Homo sapiens: one gene and its partner. The protein of the gene in region 1 interacts with the protein of each later gene in a biochemical or structural test. Each region holds a gene or a part of one and is shown on either strand. Other genes may lie near its edges.

Evidence for each region. Proteins that work in one complex are often made in the same cells at the same time.
Region 2: the proteins of LGALS8 (region 1) and ITGA3 form a complex in vitro, tested with the Homo sapiens proteins (one study listed by BioGRID).

Annotation. Positions count from the first base shown.
Region 1 is NC_000001.11:236,526,963-236,534,077, forward strand, and holds part of LGALS8 (galectin-8), read left to right. Parts: intron 1-7,115.
Region 2 is NC_000017.11:50,073,110-50,080,109, forward strand, and holds part of ITGA3 (integrin alpha-3 preproprotein), read left to right. Parts: intron 1-806; coding exon 807-895; intron 896-1,034; coding exon 1,035-1,171; intron 1,172-1,338; coding exon 1,339-1,425; intron 1,426-2,349; coding exon 2,350-2,417; intron 2,418-2,489; coding exon 2,490-2,626; intron 2,627-3,216; coding exon 3,217-3,366; intron 3,367-3,474; coding exon 3,475-3,572; intron 3,573-3,864; coding exon 3,865-4,012; intron 4,013-4,269; coding exon 4,270-4,338; intron 4,339-4,895; coding exon of another isoform or gene 4,896-4,936; coding exon 4,937-5,016; intron 5,017-5,097; coding exon 5,098-5,175; intron 5,176-5,714; coding exon 5,715-5,817; intron 5,818-5,966; coding exon 5,967-6,149; intron 6,150-6,325; coding exon 6,326-6,448; intron 6,449-7,000.

The DNA of each region.
Region 1 (7,115 bases):
AAGCAAAGTCAGTTTTAGGAGAAATAGCCTTTCAGTGGTAGTAAGTTTAAAAAAGATGACTTCCTGAAGCGGAAGCTTGTGAGACATTTAAGATGACTTTGCGCATGTTAGAGTTAAAAACATCCCAAGGTTGTAAACTGATTTCCTGCAAAGATCTTAACAACAACAACAACAACAAACTAGGCTGCCTGCCACGGGTGTCTGAAGTATCATCTTGGCTCAAGCTGGGAGAATGGATAAAGGTTACACTGTTCATTTCTGCCCTTCACACAGAAAAGAAGATAATTTTATAGGTAAAATTCGTGCATATCTTGATTCTAGCATACTGCTGATTCCTGTAGTTTCTGGGGTCAGTACTCTCAACTATTGAGGTGGAACAAAAATAAGTAGACTTCATTTCTTGAGGAAGGGGATCTGGAGAAGTAGTTCTGCGCTAGAGCAGAAAATGCCTTCAGTCTTGTGGCATGGGCTGGATGCTGTTCTGAGGATAATGCATTTCCAAGGGAGATATTTTTGGCAAATAGCTTTTTTTTCTTTCTTTTCAAAATTCTCTGTTTTATTATCAGTTCTCACAAAAGAGTCGGAAAGGTTAGAGGTAGACTGAACTGAATGGCAAAAACATTTTGCGCTCTCTTTACGTTTCACTGCTGTAAAATATTTATAGTATAAAGGGCCTGTATTGCACTGAATTTCTCTCATTTGTAGCTAGTTGCCCTTTCAATGTTCCAAAAAAAAAGGCTGTAAATAACTTATTTTATTTATTCAATTAATTTTTTTTTTTTAATTTTTTGAGATATAGTTTCCCTCTGGTCACCCAGGCTGGAGTGAAATGATGCAATCTCGGCTTACTGCAATTTCTGCCTCCCGGGTTCAAGCAATTCTAGTGCCTCAGCCTCCTGAGTAGCTGGGACTGCAGGCACGTGCTACCATGCCCGGCTAATTTTTGTGTTTTTAGTAGATATGGGGTTTCACAGTGTTGGCCAGCCTAGTCTCAAACTCCTGACCTCAGGTGATGTGCCCACCTTGACCTCCAAAAGTGCTGGGATTACAGGCGTGAGGCACCATGCCTGGCCAACTTAGTTATTTAAAGATAATCAATTAGTATATTTTATAAGCTAGACTTAGGAAAACGGTTTTCAGCTGGGCATGGTGGCTCACACCTGTAATCCCAGCACTTTGGGAGGCCGAGGCAGGTGGATCACGAGGTCAGGAGTTCAAGACCAGCCTGGCCAAGATGGCGAAACTCCGTCTCTACTTAAAAATACAAAAATTAGCCAGGCGTGATGGCAGCCTCCTGTAATCCCAGCTACTCGGGAGGCTGAGGCAAGAGAATCACTTGAACCTGGGAGGCGGAGGTTGCAGTGAGCCGAGATGGTGCCACTGCACTCCAGCCTGGGTGACAGAGCGAGACTCCATCTCAAAAAAAAAAAAACCCCCCCACACACAAAACCTGTTTTCTTGAATCATGGTTGTTTTGTTACTGATAGGTTCAATAAGTAAATATATTTATTGTCTGTTGTATTCTTTATTAGGCATTATAAACACACCGCCACTTTTTAATTTTTATTTCATTAATGTTTCCAATTTTTTTTTTTTTTTTTTTTTTTAAGACAGAGGCTCGCTCTGTCATCCAGGCTGGAGTGGAGTGGTGCAGTCTTACCCCACTGCAACCTCCACCTCCTGGGCTCAGCCTTGTAAATAGCTGGGACTACAGGCATGCACCACCATGCCTGGCTAATTTTTGTATTTTTTTTGGTAAAGACAGAGTTTTGCCATGTTTCTCAGTCTGGTCAAGCACTCCTCCCGCCTCGGCCTCCCAAAGTGTTGGGATTACAGGCATGAGCCACCATGCCTGGCCTATTTCTAATATTTTGGTCCACATTGGTGTTAGACCAACTGTCCACATTAAGTTTTCTTGGAAAAGATGAAGTAAATATTGCAACTGGCCTATGTATTTTTTTCCCTATTTAGTATATTTCTTTGACTAGTTCAACTGATAGAATTCCAAGACTTAAAAAAGTCAGGCTCTAAGGCTGGGTCCAGAGGCTCATGCCTGTAATTCCAGCACTGTGGGAGGCCAAGGCTAGTGGATCACTTGAGCCCAGGAGTTCAAGACCAGCTTGAGCAACATAGTGAGACCTTGTCTCTCTATAAAAATACAAAAATTAACTGGGGATTGTGGCGCATGTCTGTAGTCCCAGCTATGAGGAAGAGTGAGGTGGGAGGATTGCTTGAGCCCAGGAGGTTGAGGCTGCAGTGAGCTGTGAGTTTGACACTGTGCTTCATTCTGGGTGACAGAGCAAGAACCATGTTCAAAAATAAAAATAAAAAGTCAGAGTCCGGGTGCTGCGGCTCATGCCTGTAATCCCAGCACTTTGGGAAGCCGAGGCGAGAGGATCACTTGAGGTCAGGAGTTCGAGACCAGCCTGACTAACACAGTGAAACCCCGTCTCTACTAAAAATACAAAAATTAGCCGGGCATGGTGGCGGTGGCCTGTAATCCCAGCTACATGGGAGGTTGAGGCAGGAGAATCACTTGAACCCGGGAGGTGGAGGTTGTAATGAGCCAAGATTGCACAACTGCACTGCATCCTGGGCGACAGAGTGATACTTCATCTCAAAAAAAAAAAAAGAAAAAAAAAGTTAGGCTTCCTTTTCTGTTTTTTTTTTTTTTTCTTTCTTCTCTTTTTTTTTTTTTTTTTAAGAGATGGAGGCTTGCTCTATTGCCCATGCTGGAGTGCAGTGGTGCAATCTCGGCTCACTGCCACCTTTGCCTCCTGGGTTCTAGCAATTCTCCTGCCTCAGCCTCCCGAGTAGCTGGGACTACAGGCGCACACCGCCACGCCCCGCTAATTGTTCTTTTGTATTTTAGTAGAGACGGGGTTTCACCATGTTGGCCAGCCTGGTCTCGAACTCCTGAGCTCAGGCAATCCGCCCGCCTCGGCCTCCCAAAGTGCTAGGATTATAGGCGTGAACCACCGTGGCTGGCCACTTACTTTTCTTTCTATTGAATTTGAATGAATAATTTGGAAGACAGTATCTTTACTTCATACCAGGAATGCTGCCAGTGAAATTTCTTGTTTGGCAGTTCATTATCTACCTATATATTTAATTTTGCTATTGTTTATAGAGTTCTTAAGATATGATTAAATGCTAGCTGGTTAAGAAATCATTTAGAAATGAAACAGAATTGGTTGTTACTCCAAGTTAATAAGTTGCTTGTCAACATAAATCCTACCTGGTACCCAGTTTTCTTAGGAACCTTGCTTCCATGTTTATCCTTTTCTGCTTAGTATTCTAAGTACTCCTTTTTTACCTTACAATTTAGTCTTAAAACACAACACAGTCAAGTCTTTCTTTTGTAACCTGTGAGATACCTTCTAGCCTTTGTGCTGTTTTTCTTCTCTTTTTGCTGCCTGCCTTCCTGACTGAGAGTGGATTTCCTCACTAAGGCTCTGCCCTCTGATTTTTCACTCTCTTTTCTTTTTTGGTTTTACTAGTGAAATTTTGTCTTTAATGTCTCTTTCTTTTATGTCTTTACCGATCACTCATAGATTTTTTTTTCCATATGTATCCAGTTCCAACCTTTCACCTAATGTGAACCCCCAACTCTCAGTTGCTCAGCCAGCCCTTCAAGACTAGGAGTTCAAAACCAAACTTGCATCTTCCTTCCCAAACCAGCTTTCCTCTTGCAGTTTTCTGCAGCAGGATCCTTCTGCTGTTTAACTTTTGCCTCCTCCCTTGTTTCCTAGCACCCAATAGTTGGAAGATAGTCTGTCTTCAAAATTTTAAACTACATTTATGTCCAAACCAGTGGCTTTTCCTTTTAAAAAAATTTAAAGATAATATGTGCAAATCATTTTTTTAAAATTCAAACAGTATTTAAGAGTTTCAGTGAAACATGCATTTTCCTTCTACCCTGGTACTTAGTTTTACTCCCCAAGGGCAATCACTTTTTACTGGTTTTTAGAAATATATCCTTCCTGAGATACTTATGAATATCCAAAAGTGTGTGTGTTGTGTATATCACCTTTTATATATCCTGTCTCTTTACGTGCATGCATTTTACCGTATAAACTGTTTTCTACCCTGCTTTTTCTATTTGACCTATTTTGGAAATGTCATTTTATTTAGAACTTCCTCATTTATTTTAACAGCTGCATAATTAGCAGTAAAACTTATGTAAGCAGTCCCTTGTGAAGGGCTGTGTCTTTTTGCGATTATATCCGGTGCTATAGTGTACATCCTTGTGTGTGCATCTTGGTGTGCCTGTGCTACGTATTTCTGTAGGATAAATCTGTAAAAGTGGAATCACTAGGTCAGAGGGTATGATCCATTTTCTTTACTTATTTATTTTATTTATTTATTCATTTATTTTTGAGACAGAGTCTTGCTCTGTCGCCCAGGCTGGAGTGCAGTGGCATGATCTTGGCTTACTGCAAGCTCCGCCTCCCGGGTTCACACCATTCTCCTGCCTCAGCCTCCGGAGTAGCTGGGACTACAGGCGCCCGCCACCCACGCCTGGCTAATTTTTTTGTATTTTTAGTAGAGACGGGGTTTCACCATGTTAGCCAGGATGGTCTCGATCTCCTGACCTTGTGATCCACCCATCTCAGCCTCCCAAAGTGCTGGGATTACAGGTGTGAGCCACCGCGCCCGGCCCCATTTTATTATCTTTATTTGCTTGGATCCTTCTTAGCTTCTTCAATGTTAAAGATATTGACAGTTTTCCTCTTACTGAAATTTATAAATCCATTGACTCCCTTGATATTATTGCCCTGGCCTGACTGATTCTTCTCTCTCCTTTCTCTTCTCACCCCATGTTGAGGTCCCCAAGGTCACACCCAGTTTTGATGACTCACCAGCATAGAGTTGTACTTGTGCCTATGATTTATTGCGGTGAAAGGATATAGAGCAAAATTGCAAACGGAAAGGCACCTGGGGTGAATTCCAGGGGAAATCCAGTGCAAGTTCCAAGGTCGCCTCCCAGTGGAGTCACATAGGATGTGCTTACATCCTCCAGCAAGGAGTTGTGACAACACTTGTGAAATGTGGACTGCCAGGGAAGCTCATCAGAGCCTCAGTGCCTAGGGTTTTTACTGGAGGCTGGTCACATAAGCACCCTCACACATATCAAAAAATTCTGGTCCCCCAGAAGGAAAGCAGGTGTTTAGCATAACCATATTATTTGCATGAACAGTTCAGGTACAGGAAATCCCCGTTACCAGTTAGGTTGGTGGGTGCCCTTCCCAAATCCCAAGTTCCCAGACACCAGCCAGGGGCCTGCCTCGTAAGGAGGCCTTTCCAGGACAGCAGTCAGGCCTGCCAATGTTAATTCTTTTCTGCATACCTCCTAATTTTAGAAACCACCGAGCCTTTGCTGCCTGACCTGTCCTGCTTTTCGATTTCTTTATCTACTTTGATATCTTTACAAATGATCTTTACCCTGACTTTTAAATGTGTGCTCTGGCCATTCACCTAGCGTGTGGTTCTGAGTCTCCAAGTCTTAGCAGATTTGCTCTCAGATGCTCTGCCAACGCTTCACACCAAGTATTACAAACTAAACTCGTCATCTTCCTCCTGAAACCTGTCTCCCAGGCCAGGCGCGGTGGCTCACACCTGTAATCCCAGTACTTTGGGAGGCCGAGGTGGGTGGATCACCTGAGGTCAGGAGTTCGAGACCAGCCTGGCCAACTTGGTAAAACCCCATCTCTACGAAAAATACAAAAAAATTAGCCAGGCGTGGTGGCAGGCACCTGTAATCCCAGCTATTCAGGAGGCTGAGGCAGGAGAATCGCTTGAACCCGGGAGGCGGAGATTGCAGTAAGCCGAGATCACGCCATTGCACTCCAGCCTGGGCAACAAAAGTGAAACTCCATCTCAAGAAAAACAAAAAACAAAAAACAAAAAACCTGTTTTCTCCCCAGCTTTGTCATGTATTTAGTGGCCTTATGTAGACAGTTTCCTTTGAAACATCTCTTGGACTTCTCTGCTCTTCCAGGGCCATTGCCACTGACCTGGAATGTGTCCTTATCGTTTCACGCCAGGCTTATGGCAGCAGTCAGTCACCCAGATGACCTCCTGACCTCTGGCTTATTTCACCCCCACTGGACTGTTGTTCCTAAACACTTCTTTCGTATGTCACTCTAAAATCTGACCCTGGCTGTACCTTTCTTTAACTACTCCCTGACTGCGTGCTGAGAGAAGATGGGTCTTGTCTTTTCCTGCCTCTCTGCTTTTGTAAACTGCCATTTCTACCTGAAGTGGCAACTGAAATCATATCTTCTTCATAAACTGTCTTTGGCTACCTCAGTTAGAATTCCTTATCCCATTTTCCTGAAGCATTTCTTTGACTCTTCTTTACTGCTCCCCCACCCTTTTTTTTTTCTTTGAGACTGAATTTTGCTTGTTGCCCAGGCTGGAGTGCAATGGCCCGATCTCGGCTCATTGCAACCTCCGCCTCCTGGGTTCAAGTGATTCTCCTGCCTCAGCCTCCTGAGTAGCTGGGATTACAGTCATGTGCCACCATGCCCGGCTAATTTTGTATTTTTAGTAGAGATGGGGTTTCTCCACGTTGGTCAGGCTGGTCTTCAACTCCCAACCTCAAGTGATCTGCCCACCTTCGCCTCCCAAAATGCTGGGATTACAGGTGTTAGCCACTGCGCCTGACCCCCATTTTTTTTTTTTTTAAAGATGTTGAATTGGTCAGGGTTTGTAGTTACAAGCAACAGAAGCCAACTCTTTAAGCAGAAAAGGAATTTGCTAAATGATAGTGCAGAGTTCTCAGAATCTCTAGCAGGATGAAGAACCAGGCTTGGAGAATAGGTAGCCACAGATACACAAGCATACTGTAGGACGGTTCCCATGAAGAGGCATCTGTTGTCACCACTGGACACAGATGGTACTGTGTCTCTGCTACTCTACCAATGCCACTGCTGTCTCTGACCCCAGATGTAGCTCCCTCTGACCCTGGATGCAGCTCCCTCTGACCCTCGATATAGCTGCCCCTGACCCCGGATGTAGCTGCCTTTGACCCCAGATGTAGCTTTCTCCAAACCCAGATATAGCGGCTGCCCCCTTGCCAGAGTGAATACTGCGTCATTGTGGCTTCTTCT
Region 2 (7,000 bases), on another chromosome or scaffold:
GGCCTTACTAACAAGCTTGGCTTGCTGATTCCCTAGGCCTTATCTGATCCAAAGCTGCAAACTGGAAAGAGTTCAGTTTAAGAAGATAACCAAATACTTGGGGGTTATTTGTGGAGATAATGATTAGAATGTAAAAAGCCTTGACACTTTCAGTGAAGTTCACTGTAGTGTTGTGGTTAAAATCCCAGCCCCTGCTGTGAGACAGCCCTGGGCTCAAATTTTCTCTTTTCTACACTCATTAGTTGTACAACTCTGGGTTTTTGGAGTGTCTCCTCATCTATAAAGTGGGGGGATAATAGTACCCACCCCACAGCACTCTCGTGAAAATTAAATGAATAGCTGGGTGTGTTGGTGTGTGCCTGTCCCAGCTACTTGGGAGGCTGAGGTGGGAGGATCCCTTCAGTCCAGGAGGTTGAGGCTGCAGTGAGCTATGACTGTGCCACTGCACTCCAGCCTGGGTCACAGAGCGAGACACTGTCTATAAACACACACACACACACACACACACACACACACACACACACGCACACACGCACACACACTGAATGCTTGACAACTGTCTGGTAGAGTCACTTGTCATCTCCTGAACCTACTTTCCCACCCGTGATAGGAGGAAGCTGGGCTCCAGATGGTCCCAGTGTTCATCCTGAGCTGCAGAGCTCTGCTCTGTCCCTGATGCTCTGAGCCCTGCCCATCAATCAGGCCAAGATCAGTTCTGTGCTGGGCTGTATGGCCTGGAGCAAAGAGTTAGGGAGACGTGGGGCCCAGAGTACCTGGGTGACCCTGTCTTGCCTTTTCTTCTGCAGATATTGCTGTGGGAGCTCCGTTTGAAGGCTTGGGCAAAGTGTACATCTATCACAGTAGCTCTAAGGGGCTCCTTAGACAGCCCCAGCAGGTACAGAGAGACGGGGATGGGTCTGCTGCCCCCACCAGCCGAGATGGGCCTTCCTTGCTTTCCTTCACCCAACCCTTCCCTGTAGCCCCCTGGGCCCTGCTCCCCAGAGCCTGCCCCCACCACTTTCCCCTGCCCCCAGGTAATCCATGGAGAGAAGCTGGGACTGCCTGGGTTGGCCACCTTCGGCTATTCCCTCAGTGGGCAGATGGATGTGGATGAGAACTTCTACCCAGACCTTCTAGTGGGAAGCCTGTCAGACCACATTGTGCTGCTGCGGTGAGCCAGGAGGCCAGTGAATAAGGGTCTTTCTCTTCTTCATCTTTGTCTGCACAGATTCCCATCTGTGTCCATGTTTGCGCTAGCTCCTTGGAAGCCTGGGCCCCAACTCTGGCCTGGGGCAGGCAGGAGGCACTGATATCTGTCTGGCTCTGTTGTCTCTGCAGGGCCCGGCCCGTCATCAACATCGTCCACAAGACCTTGGTGCCCAGGCCAGCTGTGCTGGACCCTGCACTTTGCACGGCCACCTCTTGGTGAGATTGTTCTGCCCACCTACTCCTCATTTATTTATAGGGAGGCTAGGAGGGGCTGCAGCTCCCAAACCCCTCCCCTGGCCTCCTGACATCCCACCTTTAGAAATTTGATTCTTGGGGCCAGCATTTGCCCTCTCTACCCAACCTCATTAAAAAGCAAAATTCCTTGTAAGAGGTAATGGATGAAGTCGGGGGCAGTAGAGTATAGTGGTTCAAGGTGGGAGCTCTGGACGGCCTGGTTCAAATCCCAGCTATGCCAGTGCAGGGGTGGGGATGGGCTCTGGAAAGGGGGACGCATTTAAGTGGATGGATATGGAGGAGAGTCTCCTCAGGTGAATTATTAATCCCTCTTAGGCTCAGATTTCTTGCTTGTAGAACAGAATTGATAATAACTGATTCACAGGGTTGTTGTGATAATTAAATGAGAAAATATACAGAAAGTCCTTAGCACAGCACTGTGTATACCCTAAGTGCTCAAAAAATGTTAGTTGCTAAGAAAGTGACAGTAATGATGGCGATGACCCCAAGGTCTTTAAGTGAATGAGGATTTTGGATCAGAAGACAAAGGCAGACAGAGCAGGGAAATGGGGTGGTTGGTGCAAGGAGACCTGGACTGGGGATTGGCCGACCTAGGTTCAAGACTGGGCTGGGCCACCAACTGACTGAGGACTTCAGACAAGTCCTTCTGGGCCCTAGGCCTCAGTTTCCCCATTAGTGACCTCTAACCCTGTTCTCTTTGGCTTTAAGGGGAGTGGAAGGGAAGGGGTCAGGGACACCACAGACCTGCTTTGTGGACTCCCCAGTTTTGTCCCTGCCTCTCTCCAGAAGGGCCTCGGTTTCCTTTTGCCCAGTACAGAGGCGAGAGCTAGGGCCTGGACGTGTGTGTCCCACTGTGACCCGCCCTCCTGTACATCCCTCCAACAGTGTGCAAGTGGAGCTGTGCTTTGCTTACAACCAGAGTGCCGGGAACCCCAACTACAGGCGAAACATCAGTGAGTGCTGGGGTGCAGCGTAAAAGGGGTACGCTCCCCTGTCCCCTTGCTGACCACCCTGTCTACCTGTAGCCCTGGCCTACACTCTGGAGGCTGACAGGGACCGCCGGCCGCCCCGGCTCCGCTTTGCCGGCAGTGAGTCCGCTGTCTTCCACGGCTTCTTCTCCATGCCCGAGATGCGCTGCCAGAAGCTGGAGCTGCTCCTGATGGTGAGGGAGGAGCAAGGGTCAGGATGAGGGCTCCCAGGTCCCTGGAGGAGGTGGCCAGTGTCCCCCTAGATCAAGGGTGAGGGACGGGGGTCTCCCCAGAGACAGAGGTTGGGGACATCGGTTTGGAAGGCTATTGGTGTGTAGGAGTACAGTGTACAGCACCCACACATGAGGAGTGATGGAGACCCTTGGGGTGGGGATGGGGCCAAAGGGCTTATTACCTCCAAGGAAAGTGAGGAGTGTGGGAGCTCTTGGCTCAGCCCACCTCTGGGAAAAGGGGTCCCTGAGTAGGGAGCAAGGTCAGTCCCTCTCTGGGACATCAGGGTGGAAGGGGAGAGCTCAACCTGGAGACCCTGTGGATGGGGAGGTGAAGGGACTTTTGAGGAGGAGAAGCCCTGTCTCTCCTCTTGGAGGGTCAGGATAGTAGGAAGTCGCAATTTGGCGACCGGACTGGAGGGAGTTCAGCCTAACTGTCAGGTTTTCAGGGTGGGGGGCGGGTCCAGCTCTTCTCTGGGGTTCAGGGTGGTGTGAGGATTCAGCTGGGGCAGGGAGCAGTGCAGGGCCGGGCTCAGCTCACCCTCTCTCCCCAGGACAACCTCCGTGACAAACTCCGCCCCATCATCATCTCCATGAACTACTCTTTACCTTTGCGGATGCCCGATCGCCCCCGGCTGGGGCTGCGGTCCCTGGACGCCTACCCGATCCTCAACCAGGCACAGGCTCTGGAGAACCACACTGAGGTGAGTGGGGCTGGCGCCTGGACTGGAAGACCAGGGGCCAGAAGGGCGGTGGGGCGAGAGGGCACTGGGGGGGGTGGTGCGGCCTTCACACCTCCGGCCACCCCCCAGGTCCAGTTCCAGAAGGAGTGCGGGCCTGACAACAAGTGTGAGAGCAACTTGCAGATGCGGGCAGCCTTCGTGTCAGAGCAGCAGCAGAAGCTGAGCAGGTGGCTGTGGGCCGCCGGCCGCGTTAATCGGCCAAGGGTGGGACGGGGCCTCATTAACTGGCAGGGTGGGGGCGGGGCCTCATGGCAAGGCGAGCCCAGGGACAGGGCTTTAGCGGGAACAGGTGGGATGGTCAGAAACGGGGCTTTCTCCTCCAGGTGCGACTAGAGGACGGGGCCTGGCTGTCCCAAGATGGGCTTTTCTCACCTAGGAGACCCCAGGGGCGGGGCCTAGTTGATCCGGGAGTGCCCTGGGGGCGGGGCTCTTGGCTGAGTCCTGGGCTCCTGCTCTCAGGCTCCAGTACAGCAGAGACGTCCGGAAATTGCTCCTGAGCATCAACGTGACGAACACCCGGACCTCGGAGCGCTCCGGGGAGGACGCCCACGAGGCGCTGCTCACCCTGGTGGTGCCTCCCGCCCTGCTGCTGTCCTCAGTGCGCCCCGTGAGTGCCCGCCGGCCGGCTCAGAGCCCAAGCAGGGCTCCCCGCGTCTTTGCATCCCCATATCCATGTCCTGTGCAGGTGTTGTCGTCTGCCACGTGCCCACCTCCTCTGGTCTGGGCCTTCTTGGGGGCCTTAGCGTCTCTGCTGCTTGGAGAATCCGGCTCTCAAGCTCTAGGGCTTCTGACCTTGCACCACAGAGGAGGGAGGACAAGCCCTACTTTGACCCGACCCTGACCTTATTCGCCTTCTTTCCTCAGCCCGGGGCCTGCCAAGCTAATGAGACCATCTTTTGCGAGCTGGGGAACCCCTTCAAACGGAACCAGAGGGTGAGCACCGGCCACATCCTCCCAGTCCTCCTGGGTCCCTGGCTGCACCTCTGATGAGCTCCTTGTCCTTCCAGCCTCTGCCTGCCTGCTTTCTGGGCTCCCTCGAAGTGGAGAGCCACAGTGCGGGAGGAGAGACTCAGTAGAGGGTGAGAAGAGGCCCAGAAACTAAGACAAATGGGGCTGCTAGGGAGCTGTGCACAAAGCTAGAGCAGGTGGAGGGGAGGAAACCAGTTTGACCAAGCACCAACTGTGTGCCAGCCCCTGAGCCCAACACTGTGCTTCTTTGATATGATATAATTCTCACAGCCTTCTGAGGAGGTAGATGCTCTTTTACAGAAGAGGAAACACACACTTAGAAAGTTTCAGTTACCTGCTCAAGGTTATGTAGCTCAAAAGTAGCAGAGATGTGACCTGATGGAGAGAAAGGGGGAAAGGGAGGCAGAGGTGGGGTGGGGAGGTAGAGACCCCTCACCCAGAATAGGAGGAGGAGGAGAAGGCCAGAAAGCCAACTAGAATAGTGTGCATCCCCTCCTTCCCCATGACATCACCCCCGCCAGGCCCCATATGCCACTCTCTGCCTCCCTGACCCTTGTGGCAGATGGAGCTGCTCATCGCCTTTGAGGTCATCGGGGTGACCCTGCACACAAGGGACCTTCAGGTGCAGCTGCAGCTCTCCACGTGAGTGACCTCGAAAAGCCAGTCTGGGTCAGGGCTGAGGTATCTTGGATCACCTTCCTAACCCCTGCATTTCCTCCCAAGGTCGAGTCACCAGGACAACCTGTGGCCCATGATCCTCACTCTGCTGGTGGACTATACACTCCAGACCTCGCTTAGCATGTGGGTACCGCTCTCCACCACCCCCACCCCAGCCTGCTGTGCCTAAGCTAGGGTTCCCTATCCCCAAGCTATCTCCCAAACTCCTCTGACCCCTCTCTTGGCCCAGTGTCCTCAGGCCTCCACTTTCCCTGGATCATCCTTTTCTTAACAACAACAATCACTATCGTTACCGTTACTATTCCCCCTGTAAAGCAGGCAGAAATGGAGGAATCAGCAACCCCGGGGCTAAGGTGTTGTCCCTACCATTTTATAAGAGCTCATTGTGCTAAGGATTTTATATACATCATCTCAATGACTTCTCACAGCAGCCCTGTGATACAACAGCTATGATTAAGTCCATTTTACAGATGAGGAGACTGAGGCTCAGAGAGGATAAATAGCTTGCTTGAGTCCATAAAGCTTGTAAATGCAGAGCTGAGGTTTCTATTGAGGTGACTGATGTCAGAGGGGCTATAGTTAGCCAGCTTTGGTGCCCACCCCCCTCTGCCAGGGCCCTGGTCTCTTGTCCCCCGTGACTCCAGCATCCTTCTTACCCCTAGGGTAAATCACCGGCTACAAAGCTTCTTTGGGGGGACAGTGATGGGTGAGTCTGGCATGAAAACTGTGGAGGATGTAGGAAGCCCCCTCAAGTATGAATTCCAGGTAAGGGGCTCGCCAGAGTCCTGGGCTGGGGACTTCTAGGAAGGATTATTTTTATTTTCTCTGGGGTCTGAAGGTGGGAGGGTTGGGGGTTGGTAAGATGGAGGTGGTTTTCCAGGAGATAATGACTATGACACATCTTGTGCCCACAGGTGGGCCCAATGGGGGAGGGGCTGGTGGGCCTGGGGACCCTGGTCCTAGGTCTGGAGTGGCCCTACGAAGTCAGCAATGGCAAGTGGCTGCTGTATCCCACGGAGATCACCGTCCATGGCAATGGGTCCTGGCCCTGCCGACCACCTGGAGACCTTATCAACCCTCTCAACCTCACTCTTTCTGTAAGGACACTATCAGGGATATTTCATTTGCATGCTACAGGGCAGAAAGGCCAGTGTCTTCCCCTCCCTCCCCTCATACCCCTTTGGCAAGCTGTCTCTCCTACCCTTTCCTTTCCTGCAACCCTGCTCCCAATTCTTCCTCTGCCCTGCCAGCAAATCTCCTATTTCCTCTCCAGGACCCTGGGGACAGGCCATCATCCCCACAGCGCAGGCGGCGACAGCTGGATCCAGGGGGAGGCCAGGGCCCCCCACCTGTCACTCTGGCTGCTGCCAAAAAAGCCAAGTCTGAGACTGTGCTGGTGAGTGGCCAGGGCGAGGTTGGAGGGGATTGCATCCACCCCATCACAGGGTGCCTGGGCACCAGGGGCACACAAAGCAAGGGAGACCTCAGTGTGATGAGGTGATGAGGCCCCTGCTCTTGGGAGCCTCCAGACAGAGCAGGGAGCCTCATCTCCTGCCCTCAGAGGGTTCTCCACTCTGATGGGGGAGGATTGAAGACAAGGGACCAAAGGAGGAGGCACTGGCTCTGCTCCAAGGAACCCCAGCCTGTTGGGGGCGATAGAGCTGCTCAGAGCTTTGGCCGGCAGGAGGCGGTGTCGGGCAGGGCAATGGTGGGTGGTGCGTGTGCCCTCTGCAGGAAAGGAGAGGAGAGCGGGCCTGGCAAGCCGGTTGAAGCCTAGCTGGGTGGAGAGTGGGAGGTGGTGTCCCAGGGGCAGGGAGCTGGCTGGGAAGCAGGTGTAGGCGGTTGGGCCCTGTTTACACAAGCAGGGGCCAGATTCCATGTTATCCATGTGCCTGGCATTATATGAGCTTGGCCCAAAGAGTGTGTCTGAAATGCATAGCTGTGAGGT